Regions from separate parts of the Homo sapiens genome. Here all the other regions are linked to region 2. The links come from fine-mapping of genetic effects on gene expression. A gene starts in region 2. Each other region holds a variant in brackets. All regions are shown on one strand. Distances are from middle to middle.

Region 1 (4,000 bases), 120 kb before region 2:
ATAAAAAAAACTTTAAGGTAAAGAAACAAGAGTAAAGAAAGTGGATAATTTCTACAAATGTACTAGCGTTCTTCTTAGTCTTAACAGACCGACCAGTACAGCACACCCACCGGGGATTTTTTTTTTTTTTTTTGAGACGGAGTCTCGCTCTGTCGCCCAGGCTGGAGTGCAGTGGTGTGATCTTGGCTCACTGCAAGCTCCGCCTCCCGGGTTCACGCCATTCTCCTGCCTCAGCCTCCCGAGTAGCTGGGACTACAGGCGCCCGCCACCACGCCCGGCTAATTTTTTTGTATTTTTAGTAGAGACGGGGCTTCACCGTGTTAGCCAGGATGGTCTCGATCTCCTGACCTCGTGATCCACCAGCCTCGGCCTCCCAAAGTGCTGGGATTACAGACGTCAGCCACCGCGCCCAGCACCATAGGGGATCTTTTCATCAGCTGGGTTTGCCTTTATCTTTCTTTAGCCTCGGGCTGATCTCAGGGCCGGTTGCCACCCTAGCTCCCGTTATTTCTACCTGTTTTTTCAACTCCTTGGCAAATAAAGTACTCTCCTTACAGGATCTCAACACCTCTCTCCCTGAGGATGCACTGTTGAGTGTGCACAAGTGCACACTGACGCAACCCTACTGTACTGAATGAATTCTTCACGGAAGTCTCCATACCTGGGTTTCTAGAATCTTCTCATCACTGACACAACTGTCTTCACCATTCTTGCCTCCTGGTTTGGTGAGGCAGTTTCTACATTAAAACAGTTTAAACTAGCAATTCTATCTTTAGTAACCCCACTATTTTATTATTTTCAGGACCAGTCTGCATTCAGATGCCACCTTCCAAAATGCATGGGCCTCCTGACTGCTGCCCACAGTAAAGTCCGTGCCCTGTAACATCACCATCCAGCCCTAGGACACGTCTCTCACCCACCCCACCTGTGTCCTAAATCAAGCCCAGCACACTTCCTGGCCTTTTCTACTATCATGCTCTGCACACTAGGGGCCACTGGTCAGGACACCCCACAGCCTGCCCCTGACACTTGGTGAGCTTCTCTAAGAGGCAAATAGAATGGGGTTTGGAACACAGACCCTGGGGGCCAGCTTATGTGTTGAAATCCAGCCTCTGCTACTTACCAGCAGGGCAACCTTGGCAAGTTACTGGATTTCTCCAAGCCTGTTTCCTCATCTGTAAAACGGAGTTAATAAGAGGGTTGTTGCAAGGATTTAATGAGTTAATGCAGCAAAATGCTTCAAAGAGGACCTAGCATGCAGTTAAGCACTGTATGTGTTAGCTATTATTATTGTACACTATTATCAAACAAAAGTATATGTGTGTATATGTAAGTATATAGTAGGTATACATTGATATAGCATATATATACTGCATATGGTATATATATACCTACACAATATGCTATTATATATTATACATACAGTATATCTATATACACAGACCATATATGCATGTAAGAATATGGGTGTGTATGTGTTTGTGTAGCTCAGCCCTCAAATAGCTACCTCCATTCACTTCCCCCGTTTTCACCCTGAGACTCTGAATTGCTCTAGGGTGCAGGCTGTGCACATAGTAGGTCCTGGTCTAACTGTCTCCAGGCTGGAGGGTATAAAGTAGTTGGGAGCATTGACTCTGGGCTGCCTGGGTCTCATTCTGACTTTGCCCCTTAGCAGGTGAGTGAACTTGGGCAAGAAACTTGAACCTTTTGAACCATCAGTTTTCTTCACTTGTAAAACAGAAAACCAACTATATCTTCTCTCATTCAGATATTGCGAAGATTAAAATGGTTATACATGTGAACAACTCAGCATGCTACCTGGTACACCCTAAGTGATCAGGAGCCCCTGGCAACAGTTAACAGTTTCTTCCTGCCCAGCTTCATGGCAGACCTGGAATGGTGGTCTCTGTTTCACCGGGACTCTATTCTTTGTTCTGTTTGTTGCTCTTGGCCTGGTGCATTGGCTCATGCCTGTAATCCCAGCACTTTGGGAGGCTGAGGCGAGCGGATCACCTGAGGTCAGGAGTTTGAGACAAGCCTAGCCAACATGGTGAAACCCCCATCTCTACTAAAAATACAAAAATTAGCCAGGCATGGTGGCAGGCGCCTGTAATCCCAGCTACTCAGGAGGCTGAGGCAGAAGAATTGCTTGAACCCAGGAGGTGGAGGTCGCAGTGAGCCGAGATCACGCCACTGCATTCCAGCCTGGATGATAGATAGAGCGAGACTCTGTCTCAAAAAAAGAGAGAGAGAGAAAAAAAGAGTCTTGATAAGGAACTTGGCATAAC[T/C]AAATAATTTGGAAGATAAAAAGTCAAGGAAGCTTCAGGATCTTTTACCAATTATTTTTAAAGTCTAAAGTGACAACCTAGCTAGCCAATGAGAAATGTGATTTAATGGACTTATCAGGCTAAGACTGCCTTAAGCTGCTGGGTAGAATCAGGGGCACTTGCTTTCCCGTGGAGGGTCTTCAGGTGACGTTCTTATCAACTTCTGACCAACCTGGCCAATGCTTCCTTGGAATAATTTTTTTTTTTTTTTTTTTTTTGAGATGGAGTCTCGCTCTGTCACCCAGGCTGGAATGCAACGGTACCATCTCAGCTCACTGCAACCTCTGCCTCCCGGGTTCAAGGGATTCTCCTGCCTCAGCCTCCTGAGTAGCTGGGATTACAGGCATGTGCCACCACGCCCGGCTAATTTTTGTATTTTAGTAGAGATGGGGTTTCGCCATGTTGGCCAGGCTGATCTCGAACTCCTGACCTCAGGTGATCTGCCTGCCTTGGCCTCCCAAAGTTGCAGGGATTACAGGCATGAGCCACCGTGCCCAGACAATTTTTTTTTTTTTTTAAGACAAGGTCTTGCTGTGATGCCCAGGCTGGAGTGCAGTGTTGCAACCATAGCTCACTATATCCTTGAACTCTTGGGCTCAAGTAATCTTCCTGCCTCCTGAGTAGCTAGGGCTTATAAGAACAAGCCACCATGTCCAGCTAATTTTTAATTTTTTTGTAGAGATGGGGTCTTGCTATGTTGCCCAGGCTGAAAATACTCTAGAAAAATACTTTAAAAAAAAAAGAAAGAAAAAACAAAGACAAAACAACCTGTCTCTTGCATTACAAAAGTTTGTCCAAGAAGGGTTTAAAACTCTGAAATACCAGATTAAATTTTAATCTCGAATTTTTTAAATAGTAAACAAAAATTATTCAACTTTATACATTGCTTCTATTTGTAAATCTGACTTCTTAGTTGTGTGAAATTAAATAACTCAAAGCTGTTGTAACTTTAAGTTATCCTGAGACTTCAGAGGAATGTGGCTCTGCAGCCTGCGTCGCTTGGCACGCAGCTGCAACTTCTGCCTTTCAGAAATGCTGTAAATAATTAAGACCAGAGATGAGACCCCTCAGATCACCACCCCTCCTCAAGGAGCAATCTGTAATCAATCGGATCACTGTAACATACTCACTAGCCTCACGTGGAAAATGGTATAATCTTGCTAAAACTTCTGTCTCTGCCTATATGATACTTTAACTTCTCCAGAGTGGAACACTGACCCCATTTGTTTGAAGCTGTTTTCCTGGGTGGCCATCCTCCAGCTCTGTGCTTGAGCAAACTCTATACTTAATGATATTTTCTGAATCTCATTATTTAAGGTTGACAGTTGATAGCATCATGCTTATTAAATAACTTTTTTTTTTCTTGAGATAGAGTCTCACTCCATCCTGGGTGATGGAGTGAAATGGCATGATCTCAGCTCACTGCAACCTCTACCTCCAGGGTTCAAGCAATAGACTCTCCTGCCTCAGCCTCCCAAGTAGCTGGAATTATAGGCACCTGCCACCACGCCTGGCTAATTTTTGTATTTTTAGTAGAGATGGGGTTTTGCCATGTTGGTCAGGCTGGTATCAAATCCCTGGGCTCAACTGATCCACTTGCCTCAGCCTCCCAAAGTGTTGGGATTACAGGTGTGAGCCACCCCACCCGGCCTAAATAACTGCATTTTGATACT
Region 2 (7,498 bases):
CCTCTAGGTTAACAAATCTCCTCTTTTCAGAATTAAGGAACCGTTTAAACCTGTCAACAACCTTAAGAGATGTACATTTCATCATTCCATTTTACAGATGAGCAAACAGGCTAAATGGCAGAGTTACTTTTACAGTGTCACACAATGGACGTAAAGCACAGGCCTGACTCAGAACCTTTAATCCTACAATGCTGCCTCCCCACTGAGAGGGGAACAGGACTAATCTTCATCCATACCTCAATACACATGAGTTAGTTTCCAATACCCTTCTACAGAAACACCTAAAACAAGCTTTCTCAAAGACGGGGCTTTTGTTTGGGGTGACAGGCAAGCAACAAGTAGCTGAAGCACACGAACACCGTGGAGGAAGGATCTGAAGTTCAGACCATGGATTTGGGGTGCCTGATGGAACCAAGCCTCAAAGACAAACCACAGATTTCACAACACTGCAGAGGACCAGCTCTTGCTCCACAACAGCTTGCCTCCCCTTCCTCTTTCTACCCTTCCACGTGACCCTCACGGTTCTCTCCACCAGAAAAGAGGCTACCATTGTTAGTTGCCAGTCTGGCAACACTGTGCATCTCAACCACAGTGACTGGCACAGAGCAGGAACGCAAATATTTACTGAATGAACCCAAGACAAAAGTTGTTTCTACGGCCAAGCTGGGACCCTAACTGCCATTTTTAACACAGTAGAGATGAGATATGCACCTTAAGCACCTGATTACTGGTGTAAAACGGACTTTTCAAAGCCTAGTCTGAGTTGCGGACAGGCTACAGTAAAAGCCTTATGTGATTATTTTTCCCCAGCCAGACTGTCTCAAAGAAGAAAACAGCTTAGCACTTTGGCATACAAATACAGACCTCAGAGGGGCATAATATGTTAGTATCTTAAGAGTGTACAAGCAAATCATGACTTTATTTAGGTTGCCTACTTTAGGTCATCCTAACATGAACAGCAGTTTAGAAAAGAAAAATCCCCTCTCAGCATTCTCAGGGTGACAATGAGGGTGGGGATAATGGCAGATATCTCCCAAAAGTTCAGCGTGGGCCAAAACCCAAAAAATCATATTCCACGATGTGCAAAAGGTTTCTTTCAAACCATGACTAATAATTTAAACAAATACATGTTTACACCAAATAATCAACTAAACAAAGTCCTTGTTCATAGGAAAACATGACATTAAGCCGAATGGTTTCAAAGACAATTCTTGAAAATTTTACCTATTTCCCTTTTGGTCGGCACCCGTGACCTGAAAAGCCTTGGCTAGTAGTTCCGATTAGTGTCAGATCCTCATAATGTGACATTTTCAGGCGTCAAATTACAGTAAAACTACTAGGGCAAGAACAAGAGCCAAAAGCAACAGGGAAGATGTCCATTTTCCATTTACACCCCCCCCCCAATTTACCACTTAAGAAAAACGGCACGTTTTTATATTAGAAAAGGGCCGCATCCTTCCAGATCTAGCGCAGCCTTAAGTCCGTGATTTGAGGAACCTGCCGCTTCCAAAATACAGGCTGAGACGTCCTCCCCATGAAGTAGTTTTGCGCTCTTGCACCACCTCCTTTGTCTACGCTGTCCCTGCAAACTCCTAGCTCAATGCCCTCCAGCAAACGAGCTGCCTGAACGCAAAGATGACCGTTCCAAGTCTTTTTTAAAAGAAGGGAAAAACCCAGTCACGCTCCTGGAGCCTGGTTCCCACGGGAGCAGGCCGGGCTGTCCACGACGGAAGCCTCGACCCTGGCTGGGGCTGTCGGCCGGGCAGCGCGGGAGAGCCAGGGCCAGAGCCGGGGCCGGGAACCCTAGTCCCGCCGCCTACGCGGGATGCAGCGACCACCGCCCGCCGCCCCCGGGCCGGCACTCACCTCCGTGGAGGGGCAGCGGCGCCAGCACCTGGCCGCGGACCTCGGCCTTGGGGGAGTCAAGCCCGTAGCGCCCGCGGTCGATGCGAAACGTGAGCGGGGCGCCGCGGCCGGGCTCCTGCACCGTCACGTTGATGAGCGCCGTGTAGTACTCCTGGCTCGCGTTGTCTGCCCGTGCCGGCCACAGGCTGCAGGTCAGCAGGGCGAGCGCGGCGAGCCGGGCAGGGCCCGCCCGCCCCGCGCAGCTCATCGTCCCTCCGGCAGCCGCCGCTGCTCGCGGACCGGGCTCCGGGGCCGGCGCCTAGAGGCGGGGCGGGCGCGGCCCGGGCGGCGGCGGGAGCGCGCGCGCGCGGCCTGCGCGGGGCCGAGCCCGAGCGCGGCCCTCCTGGACGCCGCGGCCCCGCCGCTCGCCGCCCTCACGTCCACTGCCCGCCTGTGGGGACGCGCCCATGGGCCCTCGGCGAGGGCGGCGTCTCAGGTCGCACGCGGGCGTCTCTTCGGGGTCCCAGGAGGGTTGTAGAAGCGTGCCCCCTCCATCCCCCCGGGTCGGTCCCACCGAATGGGAGGCGCCTCGCAAGGACGCGGCGGGGGAGGGGAAGGGCGGCACGGGAGGAAGCGCCCCGAGGAGGGTCAGCGGAACACAAAGTCCCTCTCGCGCGGCTGCCGCCTGAGGCGCGTGTCCGCCGCCGCCCCGCCCCCCCGCTGGTCTAGCGGCAACGCGCAGGCCTAAGGCGCAGTCCCGCCCCGAGCGCATGCGTGCCAGGGCCTGTCCGCTCCCGCCCGCCTGCACGAGGGCCCGGGCAGCCGGGTCAGCCGCTGGTGCTGGTTGTTTCTCTGTCAGGCGTGATAGCCGCAGGGCGTGGAGCCCGGGAGATTTGCGAGGACGTATGGAAATGTGTGAGAACAGACTACAAAGGAAAAAAAGCCATAACTTTAAAAGAAATGTTTAAAATTAAATGTCATGAGATTTAACATTCACGTCATGCGGTTGACATCATGGATGGGGGATGTCTCTGGCCCGGACCTGCAGGGACACGAGTGGTTGGGAAAGACCTCTAGGGTAGCCGTCCCTAACCATTTTGGCACTGGGGGACGGGTTTCCAGGAAGAGAGTTTTTCCAGGGACTGAGGGAGTTGAAGTGGTTTCCGGATGAGGCTGCTCCACCTCAGATCATCAGGCGTTAGATTCTCGTAAGAAGTGGGCAACCTAGGTCCCAAGCATGCGCAGTTCACAGCCGGGTTCACGTTGCTATGAGAGTCTAATGCCGCCCTGATCTGACAGGAGGCGGAGCTCAGGCGGTGATGCTCACTCACCTCCTGCTCGCTTACTGGTTCCTCGAAGGCCCTGGGCCGGTACAGGTCCGCGGCCGGGCGGTTGGGGAGCCCCTGCTCTAGTGACTAGGTGAACTACTCCAGGGGCCCCCGGACCAGAGGGTTGCAGTGGGAACCCCCCCTCCACCTTCCGAAACGCGCGCGCGCGCACACACACACGACTCTCATTTTCTCTCTCCATGGCGTTTAAAAGATACACATCGCTATAAAGTATCAGCTAAAAGGAAGAATGGGGCAGTGCAGCCGAATTCAGGAACTTACAGGATCTTTGTGGGGAGGCGGAGGGGGAAAGTTTGGCGTCTTCTGACCAGCCAGGGTTGAGTCTCCTGTCTCCTACTGCGGGAAGTGGGTGGAGTCAGCTTTGCACAACCAAATGTTCTGAAAATCCGGAAAAGAGGTGGCTCCCCAAAAAGAAATTTGAGGCACTGTTTCCAGGAAAGGGTACGGATGCAGTGCAGGCTAAAACTTAAGATGCCCACCACTGGCCAGGCGCGGTGGCTCACGCCCGTAATCGCAGCACTTTGGGAGGCCTAGGTGGGCGGATCACGAGGTCAGGAGTTCGAGACCAGCTTGGCCAACATGGTGAAACCCCGTCTCTACTAAAAATAAAAAAATTAGTCGTGGTGATGCGTGCCTGTAGTCCCAGCTACTCGGGAGGCTGAGGCAGGAGAATCGTTGGAACCCGGGAAGCGGAGGTTGCAGTGAGCAGAGATCGAGCCACTGCACTCCAGCCTGGGCGACAGAGCAAGACTCCGTCTCAGAAAAAGAAAAAAGAAAGAAAACAGATGTCCACTATTGATGACTTGGCAGACATCCTTTACAATTTCTCCCTCCATTTCCCTCTCTTCCATCCTCTACCATAGTCCTTATAAACCGTGCCCTGGCCTATGGAGAACGGCTTTTACTTATTTACTTATCCTCGGCAAGTACAGACCCTAGGCCAAAGCAGCGGGGTCCTCGCCCTGGGCCTGGCACCTAAAGAGTGCTCTAATCTGGTCCCCTCCAGCTGGACCCTTCATAGGGCAAGGAGTCCTTAGCACCAAGGTACCCATGCTCTAGCACCTAAGACCCAGAAATTCCTTCTCCCCACAGCCCAGGGCCACATCTAGGGCCTGTGTAGGGCTCTTCCCGGTGACGGTCTCCTGCTCTTCTTGCTGGGCATGCCCTGGCCTACCCCTGCCCAAGAGGCTCATGGCCTCTACTCCTTTGTCCTTATAAAGGAGGAGTCTTCAAACTGTAAGGTGCCCATGACCCCTGGCACAAGAAACAATTATAGAAGCTCACAAGCACCACTTTGTTAATCAGGTGGGGAGGAAGTGGCTTTCTCAACCCTTCTGAATTTGTCAAGGAGAAAATTGGTTCCAGAGCACCTTTAACACTTCCCTGGCACTTGCTGATCTCCCCTTTAAATAAAGCAAGATGAGGTCTCGGTGCACAGCCTCATCACGCACCAGCATGTACGGCAACATTCACACCAGCCTGTACTTGGGAGTGGCATTGTCTTTTAAGGAAACCTCAAGGTTTTAAGGAGACCTTAGGGAGACAAGAAGTTTTTCATTTATAATAGTGATACAACGCTACCTTTTAAAATATTATGGTAAAATACACATAACATAAAATTGTCCATCTTAACCATTTTTAAGCATATGGATCAGTGGCATTAAGTACATTCACATCGTTGTGTAACCTTTGCCATCCATCTCCAGAACTCTTTCCATCTTGTAAAACTGAAACTCTGCACCCATTAAACGTTCCCCCTTCCCCAACTACCATTCTTCTTTTCTGTCTCTATGATTTTGATGATTCTACTTACCCGCATAAGTGGAATCATATAGTATTTGTCCTTTTGTGAGTAGCTTATCTTGCTTTGCACGATGTCCTTGAGGTTCACCTCTGTTGAAGTACGTATCAGATTTCCTCCTTTGCTAAGGCTGAATCATATCACATTGTATGTATATTCCAAGTTTTTTTTTAGCCATTCATCCATTCCACTGTATGTATATAATACACTTTGTTTATCCATTCATCATAGGACACTTGGTTGCCTCTACTGTTTGGCTATTGTGAATAATGATGCTATGAACATTGGGCGTATAAATATCCCTTCCTGCTTTCAATTCTTTTGTGTATATACTCAGAAGTGGAATTACCAGATCTAATGGTAATTCTATGCTTAATTTTTTTCAGGAACTGCCCTACTGTTTTTTTAATAGTAGCTGCCCCATTTTACATTCCCACCAACTGCACAAGGGTTCCAGTTTCTTCTCATCCTTGCCAACACTTCTCTACTTCTTTTTCAAAATAGTAGCCATCTAAATGGGTATTAGGTGGTCTCTCATTATGGTTTTGATTTGCATTTCCCTAATGATTAGTGGTGCTGAACATCTTTTCATGTGCTTATTGGCCATGTGTATATCTTTACACGATGCTATCTTTTAAAACATTTAAGAAAAAAGTGAATTAAAAGTATTGGTTAAATAAAAGTACGAGTGGTTTTATCGGACATGGCAGGTCTCACGGAGGATGTGTGCCGCAGTCTGGCTCTGGCCCACGCTGGCCTGTGAATGAGCTGCCCACGAACCTTTTTCCTTAATGGGGTTATTTCCCTGACTCCACCACGCACCATATTCCCCTGCCTCTGTGTCCATTTCTCAGCCTACAATAAATCCTAGGTCACCTGTAAGCCCCAGCTCAAAATCCCCTTCTCCCCAGAACTCCAGTGGGGCCCGAGCTGCCAGCCTCCCACATCCAGGCCCCGTAAGAGCTTCAGTCCTTCAGGAGGAGATCTGTCTCCCCTGTGAGCAATGTCTGCCCTCCCAGGACAGCAGACAGGGTAATGGGTGTGTGTAAAGCATGCTGCACAGAGTTTGGGATGCCAGCAATCAGAGACCAAGCGGGGGTCCCCTGAACAGTGCTACAAACCCCAGGGGGTTGCCCAGATTTCCCAAAGTCCAACTCCTCTTTCTCCTCCTCTTCCTTTTCTTTCTTGAATGGCACATAATCCCCACTGGTCCTAGGAAGGCCCTGCTCTTGTTTCATTATTAACATGCTCCCTTTTATCACTATTTCTCACTCCCATTCCTTGACCCATAGGGAACCATTTTAGTGTGCCTCATGCGTCTCTTTTGTTTGTGTTCTTGCAAAATGTGTGTTGTTGCTTAATGTGCCTGTGCTTTTTAATTATTAAACTGTATTGGGTTATTGATGTCATTCTGTTTCTGATCCTCTTCACCCAGCACTATATTGTGTTTTTTTTTTACTTCTTTCATACATTTATTGCTTTTTTATATTGCAACATAACATACATAAAGTGCAAAAATTTTATGTTTACAACTCAAAACGTCTTTTATGAGGCGGAAACACCCTTTACCCATTATCTAGATGAAGATGGAGAACATTACTAGCACTCCTGAAAGCTTCCCTGAGCTGCTCCGTCGTGAGCACCCCACCATTCTGATTTCTTTTCTTCTTTCTTTAGAGACAGGGTCTTAGTCTGTCACCCAGGCGGGAGCGCAGTGATGCAATCATGGCTTCCTGCAGGCTTGAACTCCTGGACTCAGCAATGCTCCCACCTCATCCTCCCGAGTAGCTGAGACTACAGGTGTGCACCACCATACCCAGCTACTATCCTGCTTTCTGTTACCATTGATTAGTTTGCCTGTTGTTGAACTTTATATAATATAAATAGAATCATACAATATGGAATCTTTGGTGTCGTTTCTTTTTCTTAACCTATGTCTGTGAGATTTCGTGTTTTTGTGTGTGTAGGTATAGTTTGCTCTTTTTATTTGCTGTATAGTGTTCCACTGTTGATTTATCCATTTTCCTGTGGATGGGCATTCATATTGATTTTCGTTTGTGAATGTGATGGATCAAGCCGTTATGAAGCCTGCATGCCTCTCGGTGGGGATGTGTCTGCATCTCTGAGAGTGTCCTTCGGAGTGGGATGCTGTGTCATGTGCAGGCATGTATTTCGTGTTGGTAGGCACTGGCGCCATATTTTCAAGCTGCCCCCTTCCTCCCCACCTGAGCCTCTTTTATCTGTGTCTTCCCTCCCCACGCCCACCTCCTGCTCCTGCCCCTTGTAAGTCTCCATCTATGCTGGCGGCTTCCACTGTTGGTAATTATGAAACCCCACCCCCAGCTGTGGCTGCAGGTAAAAGCCCTGCAGAAACCCAGTCCAACTCCATGGAGCAGGCTGTCCAGGGAGGCTGTGTTCCTTATAGACCCTAAAGTCCTCACAGATGCTGTAGGTGAAGGGCTCTATGGAGACATCAACCACACAAGAGATGCTTCTGATACTG
Region 3 (8,184 bases), 190 kb before region 2:
TGCTCTGTCACCCAGGCAGGAGTACAGAGGTGTGATCTCAGCTCACTGCAACCTCTGCCTCCTGGGCTCAGGCAATTCTCCTGCCTCAGGTTCCCAAGTAGCTGGGATTACAGGTGTGTGCCACCATGCCCGGCTAATTTTTGTATTTTTAATAGAGACGAGGTTTCACCATATTGGCCAGGCTGGTCTCAAACTCCCAACTTCAGGTGACCCGCCTGCCTCGGCCTCCCAAAGTGTTGGGATTACAGGCATGAGCCATCAAGCCCAGCCTCATATACCTCCCTAACCTCAGGTTTTGATTGTACTATGTCTCCATCATCAGAGATTATAACATTTATATACTGTCACCTCTATTCCTACTATCTAACCTTAATTCCACAGCTAAATATAATCAATGCTACCACCAGTCGTTAGGCCCAAGCTGCTTCCATCACTCCTTGGTTATCTGGAGTCTGTTCTCCAGCAGACTCCACAGAAGCTGAGAGAGCCCCTGAACTCCTCTGCATGTTCTTTACAGCCTATGGTCTTTATACCTGAACGTCAGTTTGGCTGGGTATAAAATCCCTGGGTCACAGCTTCTTTTATTGTATATCTTAAAAATGTTACTCTGTATAATCTCAGCACTCTGGGAGGCTGAGGCAGGTGGATCACCCTAGGTCAGGAGTTCGAGATCAGTCTGGCCAACATGGTGAAATCTCAACCCCATCTCTACAAAAAATACAAAAATTAGCCAGGCATGGTGGCACATACACGTAGTCCCAGCTACTCACGGGCCTGAGGCACAAGACTGCTTGAACCTGGGAGGCAGAGGTTGCAGTGAGCCGAGATTGTGCCACTGCACTCCAGGAGACACCCTCCCCAACCCCCAACAAAAAGTTACTCTAAAATGTTGTTACTGTATCACAAAGTCTGATACCTCTCTTGAGGAGGAATCTCTCAGGATCGTGGCCCATTGCAACCTCCTTCTCCCACCTCCTGGGTTCAAGTGATTCTTGTGCCTCAGCCTCCCAAGTAGCTGTGATTCCAGGCATGTGCCACTATACCTAGCTTAGTTTTGTATTTTTAGTAGAGACAGAGTTTCACCATGTTGGCCAGGCTGGTTTTGAACTTCTGGCCTCAAGTGATCTGCCTGCTTCAGCCTCCCAAAGTGCTGGGATTACAGGTGTGAGCCACTGTGCCCAGCCTGGAATAATTTTTTAATCTTTAAAATTGAACAGTTTTATGAGATTTTATGTCAATATCGACTATTTTGTGTTGATTTTTCTAGACATTCAATGTGTCCTTCCACTATACAAGTTCAAGCTTATTTTATCAGTTTTCCTGAATCACAGTTTCTATTATCTGTTATTCCACTGCTTTTTTCTGGGAAGGGTGTGGGATGGCACTACGATTATACGTAAGTTTGATCTTCTTTGCCTAACTTCTTTATCCCTTCTCTGGACAACTTCTTCTCTATTTGTTTGAGTCTCCTCTGACTCCATTTTTCTCCTATCTCTTCCTTATTTACCTTAATGTATTTTCATTCTTGTGTTCCTGATTTTCATTTCAGAAATATCTGGTTTTTTTTTTCTTATTTCCTCCTGAGTCCTGTCAACTCTCTTCATATTTTTCTGTTGACTAGTCACTTTTAACCTGAGCTTTTTAAACATTTTTAATTTATACCATTCTTTAGTAGTTTCTGTCGTTTTTCTAATTCCTTTGAGATCACTCAGAAACATCAGGACACAGTTTTCATCTGCCTGGAGGAATGTTTTTCTGGTGTGCTTTCATTATCTGTGGGAGGTTATCTGGTTCACTTTCTCCCCGCAATATCTTTGTACAGGGTGTGATCAGCATCTTTTCCTGTTCTTTCAGCAGGATGTTCTACGTACGGGCAGTTGTGGGTCAGAGTAGCTTTCTGAACTCCACAGCTGGAGAGGCCTTTCCCCTGCTGTGGTCGGTCTGTGTAGTCCTTGCTCCTGTACTTTCTGGGATTGGCCACCTCTTTCTTGTATCTAAAGCTTTTCTCCTTTACCCCAAGTGTTCCTGCTCTGTTCAATCCCAGTCCTTTTTTTCTTGGGGTGAGCTCTTGTCTTTCAGAAGAGAAGTTTTTGTTAAGGGCATGGGTTTCCCTCACATTCTTGATCTTTCCTCAGCCGTATAATACGTCAGGCAGCGATAAGGCTGTGGGTAGAAATAAAGCAGGATTTTGTGCTTCCATTAATAAAAAAAAGCCTCCTCTATAAACTGGAGCCTGAGAAATCGGCTCCCAATTTCACTGGCTGTCTCTCAGATTCACTTGTTGAGGTTTCCATTTGCTGAGTAGTCTCTTGTGAGGGGTATTCTGGTGACTTCTGGATTCCTTGGCTCTTAGGACTATCAGAGCCCCTCTTCCTTCCCGCCATTGCCTCAGCACAGCTACTGGCTCTGTGTCTGCACAGAGTCATGCCACAGTTGGTGGTCTGGCCTCCAACTGTGGTGCACAGTTGGTGGATAGAGCATAGCACGGAGGTTCCTTGAAATATTAAAAATAGAACTGCTATACAATCCAGCAATTCCACTCCAGGGTATGTCCCCAAAAGAACTGAAAGTAAAGATTCAAACAGACATCTGTACACCCATGTTCACAGCAGTGTTACTCATAATAGCCATGAGGTGGAAGCAGTCCAAGTTTCAACAGTGAACAAAACGTGGCTTATCCATACAATGGCATATGATTCAGCCTTAAAAAAGAAATCTTGAGCACGCTACAACAGGGATGAACCTGGAGGACATCACGCTGAATGAAATAAGCCAGGCACAAAAGGGAAAATACTATATGCTTCCACTTATGTGCATTACCTAGAATAGTTCAATTCAAGTCAAAAAGGTAGAATGGTGCTTGCCAGGGGCTGGGGGAGTGGGGGCTGAGGAGTTACTGTTTAATGGGTTCAGAGTTTCAGTTTTGCAAAACTGAAAAAGTTCTGTGGATGGATGGTGGTGATGGCATAGCAATGTCAATGTACTTAATGGTAAATGTTGTTATGTGTATTTTATCACAATAGCGTCTCCTGAATCTGACCCCTTCTTACACCTACACTGTTCCTACCCTTGATGCTCGACTCCATCATCTTGTGCCCCTGCTTCTGTGATGGGCTCCAGCCGGCCTCCTTGCTTCTATTCTTGCCACTCTCTAGTCCAGCACTGCCCAAGAGAGATGATGAGAGCCACAAATGTAATTGTAAATTTTCTAGTAGCCACATTGTAAAGTCCTAAAGTAAATTATTGAGATTAATTTTAACAATATATTTGACTTAATCCAATATATCCAAAATACTCGCATTTCAACAGGAATCAATTAAAAAATGATGGAGTGGCCAGGCACGGTGGCTCACCCCTGTAATCCCAGCACTTTGGGAGGCTGAGGCAGGTGGATCGCCTGAGGTCAGGAGTTCAAGACCAGACTGGCCAACATGGCAAAAACCCGTCTCTACTAAAAATACAAAATAAGCCGGGCGTGGTGGTGGACGCCTGTAATCCCAGCTACTCGGGAGGCTGAGGCAGGAGAATCACTTGAACCTGGGAGGCAGAGGATGCAGTGAGCCAAGACTGCCCCACTGCACTCCAGCCTAGGTGACAGAGCAAGACTCTGTCCCCCCCCCAAAAAAAAAAAGATGGAGGTATTTTACGTTTTTCTTTTCATACGAAGTCTCCAAAACCCGTGTACAGTGATCTGAACACTCACAGCACATTTCCATTGGCACCCGCTGGATTTCCAGTGCTCCATGGCCACACGTGGCTGCTGTACTAGACGGGGCACCTCTAATCCACTGTCAACATGGACGGCCACAGTAACCCCATTAACACGTAAACAGGTCGTGCCCTCCTCTGGTCATGACTCTTCACTGGCTTCCCCTCTCACCTGAAGTCAAAGCTGCAGCACTCACAGGGCCTACGGGCTTTCGGTGACTTGGCCTTCTGCCACCTCTCTGGTCTCACCTCCTACACCTGGTCAGTCTCCTAAGCCCTGGTCCCAGAAGCCCGTGCCACATCCAATCCTGTCTCCCAGCTTGCTGTGCTCTCTGCCTCCAACACCCTGCCCCAGACAGGCTATGGCTAGTTCCCCTGCTTCTTTCGAGTTTCTCCTCCAGTGCTGCCTGATCAGAGAGGTTGCCCATGAGCAACAGAGAGAAAATGGAGCCCCCTTCTTTCCCCTGGCACTCCTGATCCCCTCATCCTGCTTTATTTCTACCCACAGCCCTTATCACTGCCTGACATATTGTATGTTTATTTGCTTACTGCCTCCCTCACTGGAATACAGCTCTAAGTGAACAGGCACTCTGTCCGATGTGTTCACTGTTCTACTCCTGGGGCCTAGAATAGCAGCTGGCACCTAACAGGAATGCAATAAAATGTGTTTGGATGCATGAAGCCGAGTGCCTGGGAGGGGCCGTGAGTGGTGCTTACTCAGCTTTCAGGAAGTGTGGGGCCTCATGGAGGCAGAGGAGGCTCGACCACCCTGTTCACTGCCCCTGCCACTCAATCCAACTTCACTCTTTCTTGAAATCCCAGATGAAGCCCAACCTTCTCCACACCTTTCTTCATGTCTGCAATCCACATTGATTCCGCCCACCCCTTCCCATGCGCTCACTGACGTAGTAATTTATTTAGCATCTATTACTGGGGCAGACAATGTAAAGGTCTGCCTGGGCCAGACCACACACGGCTCTAGAGCATGGAGGACACGCACAGCCCCAGCTCCCACGCCCGCTGCCCAATGGGATGGGGCCTTTAGGGCTGGGCACTGACTTTTCTAGAGAAGCTGGATCTGTGAATTTGCATATGGACTCTTCTAATGGCCAAATGTTTTTGCAAATTCAGACTCAACGACAGCAGCAGCACATCCATCTTGTCACACCAGAAAGCAAGGAATCAAAGACGACCAGTGTC[G/A]TGCCCAGGGACTCTCAGGGCTAGACCAGATGAGCCCCTCTGGCCACAGACAGAATAAGCATAGTGATTCCAGTGGAAAGACACACATCAAGTTGCTTAAATCCATACGTTCATAATTACAATAAAAAGTAAACCAAAAAACTCACTGGTCACATGTGGAAGACACTAGAAAACCAACTCATCATTATTTTGACAACTGGTGAGTAAGAGGAAAGAGTAAAACATGTATTCCACCTTTCCTCTATGAACTGTGCCTGGGGTCAGCTTCCCTCTTTGGGAGAATTTCAGCTCCCAGACGAAAGGAGGAATGGAATGAGCATGCCGCTGGCCACTGGCCGCTGGATCCAGGCATATTCTCAATGACTGACAGTAGCATAGAGAGGTGGCTGGTTGCCAGACATCTCTTGTTGGGAATAAACAGCACCTCAAGCCTGCCCACAGGCGGACCTGCCAGAACCAAAATCAGCTGAGCCTGAATGTGATCACGGCTCTCGGTCTCACCGCTCAACCAACTTAAACAAGAGACACAGGAGCTTGCTAAACGCCTGCAGCGGATGCAATCAGCAAAACCAGACGATGAGAGACTCTATGGCACAAGTGACCGATTCCTTCAAAAAAATATTGTGGAAGAATAAACGAGAGCTAGGTGGAGCAGAAGCCCGTAGATTAAACAGATTTAAGAGACCTATCAACCAAGAGTGACATGTGTGACTTTCGTCTGCCTCAGTTCAAATAATCAAACCGTGAAAAGTACACTTGCACACGGGGAAGTGTGAATACAATATTTGGTGATATTAAGGAATTCTTGTTAAGTTTGCTGGTACAATAGTGATACTGCAGTTCTACCGTCAAGAACTTCAGCCTGAACGCCTGGCAGGGAAGGTCATGGGAACAAAGCCGAAGTGTACAGGCCTCCACAGTGTGGCTTTGCTCTGAGTGCAGCAGCAATGCAGAAAGGACAGCCAGAGAAGGTTCCTCATGGGCAATGGGCCCAGCAGGAGTGAGGAGTACCGGGTGTGTGGCTGGGGGTGCAGAGAGGCTGTGATGTTGCTGGGCAGTGTGGGTCTGGGCTAGGGGTCTCTTGCCAGCTCTGACACATCCACCCCTAGGCGGAGGCCCACAGCCGGAACCATGGGGTCAGGCTCCAGCGGGGAGGCTGATGGATGCCCTGGCTCTTCCTGGGCCCAACTCGACCCTGCTGCTCCCAAGGGGCTTCTCACCTCTGTGCTAGGGTCCACAACACTGGCTTTCCTGCTCCCGATACTGCCTGGCTGCTTGGATGGTGTTTTCTGGAGGAAGTCAGAGATCCTCTGCACCAAGAAATCACGGTCTTTCAGGTTGGCAAACAGGAATGTCATTTTGCTTTTGGTGCTGATGGACAGGGGGCTGGGCAGCACGCTGGAGCTGTCAGCTTTTTCGACAATGGTCACCTGAGAAGGTGAAAGAACTCTTTTGGGTGTCTGCATCTCAGGCCCTGCAGCTGGGCATGCTTTGTGAATGGCAGACTGTCATGCAGCTGTCCTCTCCTGGGCACAATGCAGTGAGTGGCCCAACTGTCCTCACATTCTGACTCTGCCACCCGCTGCACCTAACCCCGAGCAAGTTGCCTGTGCCTCTAAGGGCCCGTTTTTCCTGTCGATGGCGGGGAGCACACCGGCTGTGCAGGGTGGTTCTGAGGATGATGTAGTGTTCAGCCCAGCTGCTGGCCTTCACTGGCTCTCAGAAGGCTGTCCGAAAGCAGGGCAAGCAGTCCCTTGCTTGCAGGACTGTTCCCTGCACTTGTTCCCAGGGAACACTTTTTGACAGCAGGGGTCCTGGAGCTTGGCTCTGAACCCCTCTGAGGTGTAGAGGGCACAGGACAAGCTTTCAGTGGGCACCTCTGCAGAGCCCAAGGCCTGGCAGGGAGACGGACGAGGGATGCACCAGCTGAGCACAGTCAGCAGGGGTGAGTGCTGGGAAGAGGGAAGGCTGGGTGGTCCCAGGGGAGGCGGCCACTGAGCTGAGACCTGGTCCAGCCAGGTGAGTGCTGGGGAAGAGATGGGTGGGGGCACAGCAGTCACCCTGCAGAGGGGAGTAGGACTGCCTGAGGGAGGAAGAGAAGGCCAGAGAAGCCAGGACAGTGTGAGCTGGGCAGTGGTGGAGGTGAGTGTGCACTTTTTTTTTTTTTGAGACGGAGTCTCGCTGTCGCCCAGGCTGGAGTGCAGTGGTGCGATCTCAGCTCACTGCAAGCTCTGCCTCCCGGGTTCACGCCATTCTCCTGCCTCAGCCTCCCAAGTAGCTGGGACCACAGGTGCCCACCACCACGCCCGGCTAATTTTTTGTATTTTTAGTAGAGACGGGTTTCACCATGTTAGCCAGGATGGTCTCGATCTCCTGACCTCGTGACCCACCCGCCTCAGCCTCCCAAAGTGCTGGGATTACAGGCGTGAGCCACCGCGCCCAGTCTGAGTGTGCACTTTTTATGTCTGTGTGTGAACATATCCATGGGGTGTGCCTGGGCGCAGGTCTGAGAGGGGGAGAGGCGCACAGAAGGCCTCACAGGTCACAGGAGGCAGGTGGGAGAGGCGCACAGAAGGTCTCACAGGTCATAGGAGGCAGGTGGGAGAAGACTCTAGAGGACTCTAAGCAGGGTGCCAACATGCTCCCACTGACATTTCGAATTTTGCTGGTTGCTGTGGGAGGATACGCCATAAAGGGGCTAAGTGTGTTAGGCCGGGTGTGGCGGCTCAGGCCTGTAATCCCAGCACTTTGGACGGCTGAGGGAGGATCACTTGAATCCTGAAGTTTGAGACCAGCCTGGGCAACATGATGAATCCCTGTCTCTGTTAAAAATTTAAAAAAAACAGCTAGGTGTGGTGGCAAGCATCTGCTGTCCCAGCTACTCGGGAAGTTGAGGTGGGAGAATCACTTAAGTCCGGGAGATGGAGGCTGTAGTGAGCCATGATCACACCACTGCACTCCTGCCCAGGCAAGAGTGAGACCCTGTCTCAAAAAAAAAAAAAAAAAAAAAAAAGGCGGGGGTTGGGGTTCAGTGTGGTTAGGGAGTGGCTAAAGCAGATGATGGTGTCTTAGGTGGTGTCCGTGGAGAGGAAGGGCTGAGCTCTGCGGGGTGAGCTGGCAAGACATGCTGTAGGGAGGAGGGAGAGGTCGGAATCTAGGCCGATACGTGGCTTTTACCTGGGCAAAGGGTGGAAGAGGGGTCACTTCCCGAGGGAAGCATGGAAGCGGGTGGTTGGGAGTGAAATTCAAGAGTCCACTACACCCACAGCAGAGTGA
Region 4 (7,436 bases), 67 kb after region 2:
GGGAGAGGAGGGGGGACGGACACATTTCTGGGCAGGGCCATCTCTTGCTCTGGCCTTTCTGCGGTTGACGGCTCCATCCTCCCTGGTGAGTCTTCGCGCTGCGGGGAGTGGGGAGTCCTCAGAGCAGGGGACCCTGCCCCAGGGGTGGGTCTAGGTCTGTGCCGACCAATCAGAGCAGGCATACGCCATCGTGCACAGTGATTGGCTCACAGGTGGCCACGTGACCTAGGATACGCCAATGAGGAGACTCACTGGGCCAGTAGAGAAAAGGAATTGAGGCTTCCACGTGACCGGAAAGGGTGGTAGGTGAGCCTGGTGCGGTGGAGGCGGCCAAGCGCCACACCAGCCAGCCCGAGGGAGGCCAGCCCCGGGAAGCGGCAGCAGAGGGCGGGAGGGAGACAGGCCACGGTGCAGTGCTGTGGTGTGAGGCCCGAGCCAGCGGTCCCTGAGATAGGGCAGGTACACGGGCCAGCTAAGTCCTTTTGGTTCAGGCGGGTTGAAGTTGGGTCTCTCCCACTAGCGGTAGAGCCCTACCGACGCGTGTGCAATAGAGGCAGCCCGCAGGACCCGGCCAGGACTGGGAAGGTGGAGCGGATGTGCTGGGGGAAGGAAGCCCACCAGAGGCAGCAGGCCCTCCCGGCCACAGATGGGTCCTACTGACCGGGCTCCGGATACTCAGGTCTGGGCTTAATGGGCTCAAGGGTTCCCGTCGGGCACTGGAAAACTACATGGAGGTTAAAGGTCCTGTTCTGCTCCTTCTGGCTCTGGGCCTCAGACAAGGTGGAAACACCCGGTAGCCACCTTGTCAGGAAAACGGGGACAATCATTGCCTCCCCGAGAGGCTGATGCGTTGAGGGCATGGCAGGGCAGTGCTGGTACACTCTGAGACCCCCTGGCCTGCCCTCCGCCTCACCTTGTCCAGCACCGGCTTGTCCAGCTGCTGCTGCTCGATGCACAGGTGGCAGACCCGGGCCAGGAGCTCCCGGGGCTCGATGAAGAGGCGAGAGCTCAGCAGGAAGGTGAAGATGTAGGCTTTCTGGGGGACACACGAGAAAGAGGGCACAGGCTCAGGAGGGCACCAGGAGGGGCATGCTTCCCAGCTGGCCCTGTACCCTGGCCCAAGGTCACGCCCAACCCTGATGCCCCCCGTGCGTGGTGGAGGAGAGCCCACTCTCCTGCCCGCTGGGTGGATCACCCACCTCGGGGTAGTAGTCGGCTGTGGGCACCAGGTGCTGGATCAGTGTTTCCAGGGAGGCTGAGGATGGCGCTCCATCCAGGAGGGGCTGCCCAGCCTGTTCGCCATCTGTGGGCTCGGTGGGGGGTGGGCTGAGGCTGCCTGGGGTGACCATGTCGGAGGCACTCAGCGTCTGTGGCATGTCTGCCTGCAATGGCAAGGAGCAGTGAGGACCTGAGTGGGGGCACACCTGAGTTGGGTGCACCTGAGTGGGAGCTGCTGGTCCCGGGGCTCCTGGCTGGGCAGGCTCCCCCCACAGCCACTTTGTGCCAGCTTGAGTCCAGTGGTCACTTCCTGGGAGTATTGTCAGGGCCCCTTCCTCACAGCACAGCCTTCATTCTCCGTCTTCTCATGGCCTCTCAACTCTCCTGCAGGACCCATCTCTTGTCTACTCCTCTTGCCCCACTCAGGGGCAGGCCTCTTCTAGATTCTTCCCCCCGGCACCCCTCCACGAAGGTTGTTTTTCACAAGCCTGGATAATCAGCCTAATCCCCCTGCTTCTGGCCACAAAGATTGGTTCAGGGATTGGCCCCATCCAAATTAGGGGGGCTCAGCTGCAATCCCAGAACTTATGTGGCACTTGGAGGC[T/C]TTCTTTCCCCCTGGAGTCCTTGAGCTGGTGGAATGTATGCCCGACGCTACTGGGGCCATTGTGGCAGGAAAGTGGGCACATTCCTGAGCACAGTGTCGCTGTGCTGAGCACAGAAGCTGCTCCATGGACTTCTCCATCACATGTGCCTCTTTAAGTTGGGGTTCTCTCAGGTACAGTCAAAACTGCTGTCCTCCTTAACCTGGCATTCTGGGCTCTTTGTGATTTGGACTAGCTGACCTGTCCATCCTCACCGCCTATCACACCCCATTGCTCTTGGCACCAGCCACGTTCTCTCCTCCAAATGCCTTCTCCAACTCTGAACCACTGCACATGCCGTTCCCTCCTGCAGGAAGGCTCTCCCACCATCTTCACTCCCCTATCCCTCCAGGTATGGCTGAAATGCCTCGTCCTCGGTGAAGCCTTCCCTGCGTCCCACCAAGGCTGCACCTGACCTCTGGTGGGCATCAGCAGATTCTGCTTGTCAGCCTTGTTGGGTGCCTGGGTGCTGCTGTCAGTACCTGGCACAGGGAAAGGCCAGCTGCAGCCGTTACAGTGTCTTCTCTACCCAAACCTCCAGGCAGAGGCCAGAGCACATCCTCTGTGACCCTGCTCTGAGTGACGGGCCTGGCAGCAGCAGGTGTCCATACCCACCTGCAGGGAGCCCATGCTTACTCTCAGAAGCTCTTCCACTTACCCCTCTAGGCCAGTCTTCCTTGAAAGCCCAGGAGCCCTCACAGTGACGCATCCTGGCTAAACCTGTGACTGTTTAGACAGCCCCTACATTCTTGATCGTGGAGTCCTGCCAGCTCACTGCAGGGTCTTCTATGGACTCTGAGGCTCCCCTGCTCATGCCGTCCTTGCTGCCCCGATGGCAAACCCTGACCCTGGCCTATTTCTCCTTTGCAGCACTCTGAGTGACCCTGCCCTGGGAGTAGAGACAGAGGGACGTGGTGGGTCAGAGCTGACACTGGGGATCAGAGGGAGCCCCTCAGAGGGCTGTCCCGTGGCCATGTGGGTGTGGGAGGTGCTGGGACTGGGTTACAGCATGGGAAGGGCTCAGGCATTGGTGTGGACAGCAGCCCAGACAGTCCTGGCCATGGTGACAGACAGCTTATTTTCGCCTCCCTGACAATGCTGTAAGTGTTCAATTTTCAGCCAATGAAACCGTAAAATTTCACAAAATCACCTCCTGTCTGTCCCAGGGGGAGGCGGCTGAGCAGGTGGGCATGCAGGAAGCTGCACATGCTCAGTGGGAGGGGGACAGCTGCGGGATGGGCCGGCTGCAGGGTGCACGCTGCTCTGCCTCCTGCCCAGGGCCCGGCAGCTCAGCCTGATTCCACAAGATAGAAAACCTGTGAGCCTGGGAGGTCCGTTGTCTCCTGCTGGACACCTGGCACCTGTTCACCCTGCAACGCTGGGCCTGCCCCAGATCCCAGCCCCATTTTCTTGACAAGCCAGTGGCAAGGGTGGAGGTGGCTCTGGAAGCCTCTGCAGGATGGTGGGAGGTGCCATGCAGGGGCCTTTCTGAAGGAGGCCAGGAGGCTGCCACTTTAAAGAGACAGCCAGGAGGCTCCCAGGGGACCTGGGGCCTGGCCTGGACCCAGGTGCTGGGCACATGGGAGGTGGGAGCAGTGTTCAGATCCAGCTCTGCTCTGGAGCGACTAGCTCTCGCTGGAGCCAGGGGTGGTGGTGGTTGCTGAACTATTGTGACCCACAGGGATGCCCAGAGAGGGGCTGGGCTGCCAGTGGTCCTCCGACCTCCAATCACCCATCGTATCACCAGCTGGGTCCAGGTCTGGGTCTCAATGAATGGGCTTATCCTTGTGCCGCAGCCTTCAGTTTTTTCCTGTGGTTGCCAAGGGTCATCCATTCATGCGTGTATGCATGGGGTGACTCCTGGCTCCATTCCAGGCAATGGGGACAAAGCCCGACCTCAGGGAGCTGGTAAGGGAGGCAGAGCTGTGCAGAGACTGCCCCACGGGAGGCGTGCTGTGAGGGAAAGGGGGTGACCACTCTCTGTGCTCACTGCGGTGGATGTCCTGGCCCCTAAGAGAAGGTGAGGTCAGAGCTGCTGCTACCAGCGGGCTCCCCCACCACTCCCACCCCTCCCTGCAGGCGTGCTGGTGCAGACAGGCCAGGTGCCCACCTCTGGCCTCTGCATGAGGACAGCTGGGGACACAGAGGACACTGCTGCTCCTCCATCCGCCAGGGACAGCCAGCTCCTCCTCCCTCCAGCAGGAGCTCCAGCCTGCCTGGAATGGGCTGGGTGAGGGTGGCTGCACTGAGGGCTGACGGCAGGATGCAATCGGCAGAGAGACATGCCAGACAGACTGACCAGCATGTGCAGAGGCTCGGCGGAGCGGGGGGCAACGTGGTGTGATCATGGGAGTATATGCTTAGGTGTCAGGAGCCAGGCAGTGGCTCCTGGAAGTGTAGTGGGGAGTGACTGAGTTGGGGTCAGGGAGTGTGCAGAGTGATCAGAGCATCACGTTCCTTGTGTGCAAAAACAGCCATGTAACGAGGGTCCCTCGCTCCACCTGTAAGTGACGCTTTTATTAGTTTCTAGTCTTTCTGTAGCTTCTTTACGCAAAGACAAGGACATGTAAACACATAACCCCTTTTCTGTCTGTATTACACAAAAAGGTAGCATACTGTCCACACTCCCCCGCACTGGGCTTTCTTCACTAACAATGCGTTTTGAGGACCTTTCCATGGCAGGGCAGGGCTGCCTCATTCATTTTTATAAAAATTGCCTCACAATATTCCATTGTTTGGATGTCCACAAATAATTTTTAAAAAGAAATGAGGCAGCAGCCCAAGCGTCCATCAGTGACGAATGGATGGAGAAAACGCCTCTCCACACAGTGGGGCAGGAGTCAGCCTCAGAGAGGAAGGAGGTTCTGAGCCTGCGGCAACACGGATGACCTTGAGGACGTCATGCTAAGTGAAATGAGCCTGACACAGAAGCACAAACACTGAGTGACCCCACTTGTGGAGGCACCTACAGTCATCACGTTCACAGAGGCAGACGGTGGGACGGCGAGTGCCAGGGGCTGGGGGTGGGACAGGAGAACAGAGTGTCACTTGTGAAGAAGAAAAGATTTCTGGAGAGGGATGGAGGTGACAGTTCCACCACGATATGAAGGTACTTAATGTCACTGAACTGTCACTTAAAAAGGGTTAAAATGATACATTTTATGTTATGTGTATTTTATCACACTTTTTTTTTTTTTTTTTTAAACAGAGTCTCACCAGGCTGGAGTGTAGTGGCACGATCTTTGCTCACTGCAGTCTCCACCTCCCAGGTTCAAGGGATTCTCGTGCCTCAGCCTCCCAAGTAGCTGGGATTACAGGTGCCCACCACCACACTCAGCTAATTTTTGTATTTTTGGTAGAGACGGGGTTTCACCATGTTAGCCAGGATGGTCTCGATCTCCTGACCTCATATCACACTTTTTAAAAAAGGCAGTGATGATGGGACAATTGTTTATTGTTACAATATCTCTCAGAAGTCTTGAAATCACTGTTAAGTCTCCCATCTGTGTTTTGTGCACGTGGCCTGAATGATGCACGTGACAAAGGGGCTGGGAGTCTTGGGGGCTGCATAGATGGGCTGTCAGCATGAGGGGCTCAGCATGGATGGGGAACGTTCTGCTCGTACCCTGTAGAGAGACCTTTCCATTTCTCCCTCTGTCTGCCTCGTTGGGACGTGGGGCTCGGTGTGTGTGAACTAGATATATGCACGGTGTGGCTGCTCCCGTGGGGTTCCGCTTCCTACCCATGAAATGAATGAGACTTAATTAAATGCCCAGTGCTGGCAGGCATGCAAGGGCAGCCCCTTACACACCACTGCGGGGAGGGGTGGTATGCGTTGTCATGGTCCCTTTAATTGTACCAAGATTTGGCTCAATGTACCAAGAGCGTTATGTTCTATAGCGTCCTTTCATCCTAATCAAAGCCTTGGAAATGTATCCTGAGAAAATAAAGGGGACAAGCTGTGGAAAGAAAGGCCCTTGCTTCAGCATTAAATCCCAGCAGCGAACACTCTCGAGCAGCACAGATGGCAAACAAAGGGAGCATGGACGGGGAGGTGCACAGACGCACTGGCGGAGTGGCTGTGGCCGCTGCAGTGATGGTTCTGAACACACGGTCATAACACAGAAAACAGTGTGGCACAAGGAGGGGAAAACAGCAGGAGAGAAAGGTGCGGATGGTGGGAATGACATTCACGTGGATGAAGACTGCAGTGAGGCCCTGAGAAATGAGTCGCTGCTGTGCCCTCCTCGCACCCCATCGTTTTAGAGTCATTCGTCCAAGCTGAAGTCCACTCATCAGAGGATGGCTCTGGGAACACCTGAACTGATTCCAGGCCTGGAATGGTGAGGCTGGGGGCACGTGCCCCCGCTGTGGCAAGGGCACTGACAGGACACTGAGAGGAAATGCCTGGCTCTGGCACACAGCCCCAAGTGGCTGAGGCATGAGCTTCTGCCTCGGTTTCCCTCTCCATGGCTCCTGTCCCACTGCCTGGCCCCCAGCCCCTCAGGCATCTCTCCTTGTGTGTGTCTCCAGGCCCTGCACCTGGAGGTCCTGGGGCTCCTGCAGCAGTTCAAGAGACAGCAGGCGAGGATTGTGTGGGGTCAGGTCTGCAGAGAGACAGGCAGACAGGGGACAGGATCCCACGTGCCACCCTGCAGGGGGGCACTCTGATGCCTGCCAGCACCCAGCTGGGCATCCTTCCTTCTGGAGGCCTCACTGACAGGCTCAGGGCCCACCCTGCTCCAGGCCGCTGGCGCTGGCAAAGTTTCTGGGACAGCATGGCCCCAGCCCAACCCCTCTATGGGAGACGGGAAATGTGTGCAGGGACAGGGGCACCATGTGGTGCGTTTATAAGGAAGGCCAGCCCTGAAGATGGATGTGCATTCTCCTGCTATTCCAGTGGGTGCTGGAAAGAGGTAATGGTCACCTGCCCCCAGCCAGTTGAAAACGTGCCCAAGGGCCCTGCTGTTCCTCCTCAGCGTGGGGCTGGCAGAAGGTGGGCCGGCTGTACCAGTGAAAACCCACAAGCTCTGCTGTGCTCTGGGAGCTGGCGTGCTCAGACCTTCCTGGTGTAAAAGTCATCCAGGACATCCAGGACTCCTGACTTACGTTTCATATTGTGATTGTAAGGGTGGCAATTAATTCTATTTTTTTAAAAAGCCACTGATGGGGCCACACAGTGAGTTAAAGCACAGTTAGAAATGACATCTGTAGTGCCAAGGTGGTCAGTTTACAGACCCTGTTCCTGCTGGGGTCCCCACATCCCTCAGCATGGGTGGCTGGCATTAAACATCTGCAAAATGGAAATCCATCGAACTTGCAGAAGAAAAGCAGGTGGCTGGTCAGAGCGCGTCCTGGGGGCTGGAGGGATGTTCTCCCTGGGCCAGGTGTGGCAGAAGGGACAGAGGTAAAGAAGGCTCCCGAAGGCCCCTGTGAGGACCACGCGCGTGTCTCAGGAAGACACCTGTGAGCTCTGAGAAGAGGGAGCAGTCCCCCTCTTCAGGTTATGGAGACTGGTGCACGAAGTACCTCGCACAGTGCCTGCTGTGGAGAAAGGACCCCCAAGGCCAGCACTCG

Which allele goes with the higher level. Alleles are on the strand shown, and positions count from the first base shown. SD is a standard deviation of normalised expression in the study named. Not every link is listed here.
As copies of T replace C in region 1, the expression in testis of the gene that starts at base 2,170 in region 2 goes down (small effect, 0.19 SD a copy in GTEx).
For the expression in adrenal gland of the gene that starts at base 2,170 in region 2, A is the low allele of the variant in region 3 and G is the other (small effect, 0.37 SD a copy in GTEx).

What was found. PIP is the estimated chance that this variant, and not a neighbour inherited with it, causes the effect. A credible set is the group of variants that fine-mapping cannot tell apart.
Region 1: its variant is the best candidate, but not a certain one, in a credible set for the expression of RNF130 in testis (GTEx, PIP 0.51).
Region 3: its variant is the best candidate, but not a certain one, in a credible set for the expression of RNF130 in adrenal gland (GTEx, PIP 0.54).
Region 4: its variant is the best candidate, but not a certain one, in a credible set for the expression of RNF130 in uterus (GTEx, PIP 0.73).

What each region holds. Positions count from the first base shown.
Region 1 is chr5:179,946,439-179,950,438 of GRCh38, forward strand. It overlaps a transcript of RNF130 not described here and the pseudogene LOC101060066. Among named protein-coding and RNA genes, the nearest start is that of TBC1D9B, 41 kb to the left of the region's middle. The variant T/C (reference allele first, on the strand shown) is at 2,289.
Region 2 is chr5:180,069,590-180,077,087 of GRCh38, forward strand. It overlaps RNF130 (ring finger protein 130), which reads right to left and starts at 2,170. Exons shown (of 9, transcript NM_018434.6): 1 at 1,867-2,170. The coding sequence starts at 2,113. RefSeq lists an enhancer at 1,844-2,551 and a silencer at 2,441-2,520.
Region 3 is chr5:179,881,975-179,890,158 of GRCh38, forward strand. It overlaps TBC1D9B (TBC1 domain family member 9B), which reads right to left. Exons shown (of 21, transcript NM_015043.4): 7 at 6,129-6,338. Among named protein-coding and RNA genes, the nearest start is that of TBC1D9B, 22 kb to the right of the region's middle. The variant G/A (reference allele first, on the strand shown) is at 4,909.
Region 4 is chr5:180,136,677-180,144,112 of GRCh38, forward strand. It overlaps RASGEF1C (RasGEF domain family member 1C), which reads right to left. Exons shown (of 14, transcript NM_175062.4): 2 at 1,200-1,382; 3 at 914-1,036. The coding sequence starts at 1,376. Among named protein-coding and RNA genes, the nearest start is that of RNF130, 69 kb to the left of the region's middle. RefSeq lists an enhancer at 373-872. The variant T/C (reference allele first, on the strand shown) is at 1,823.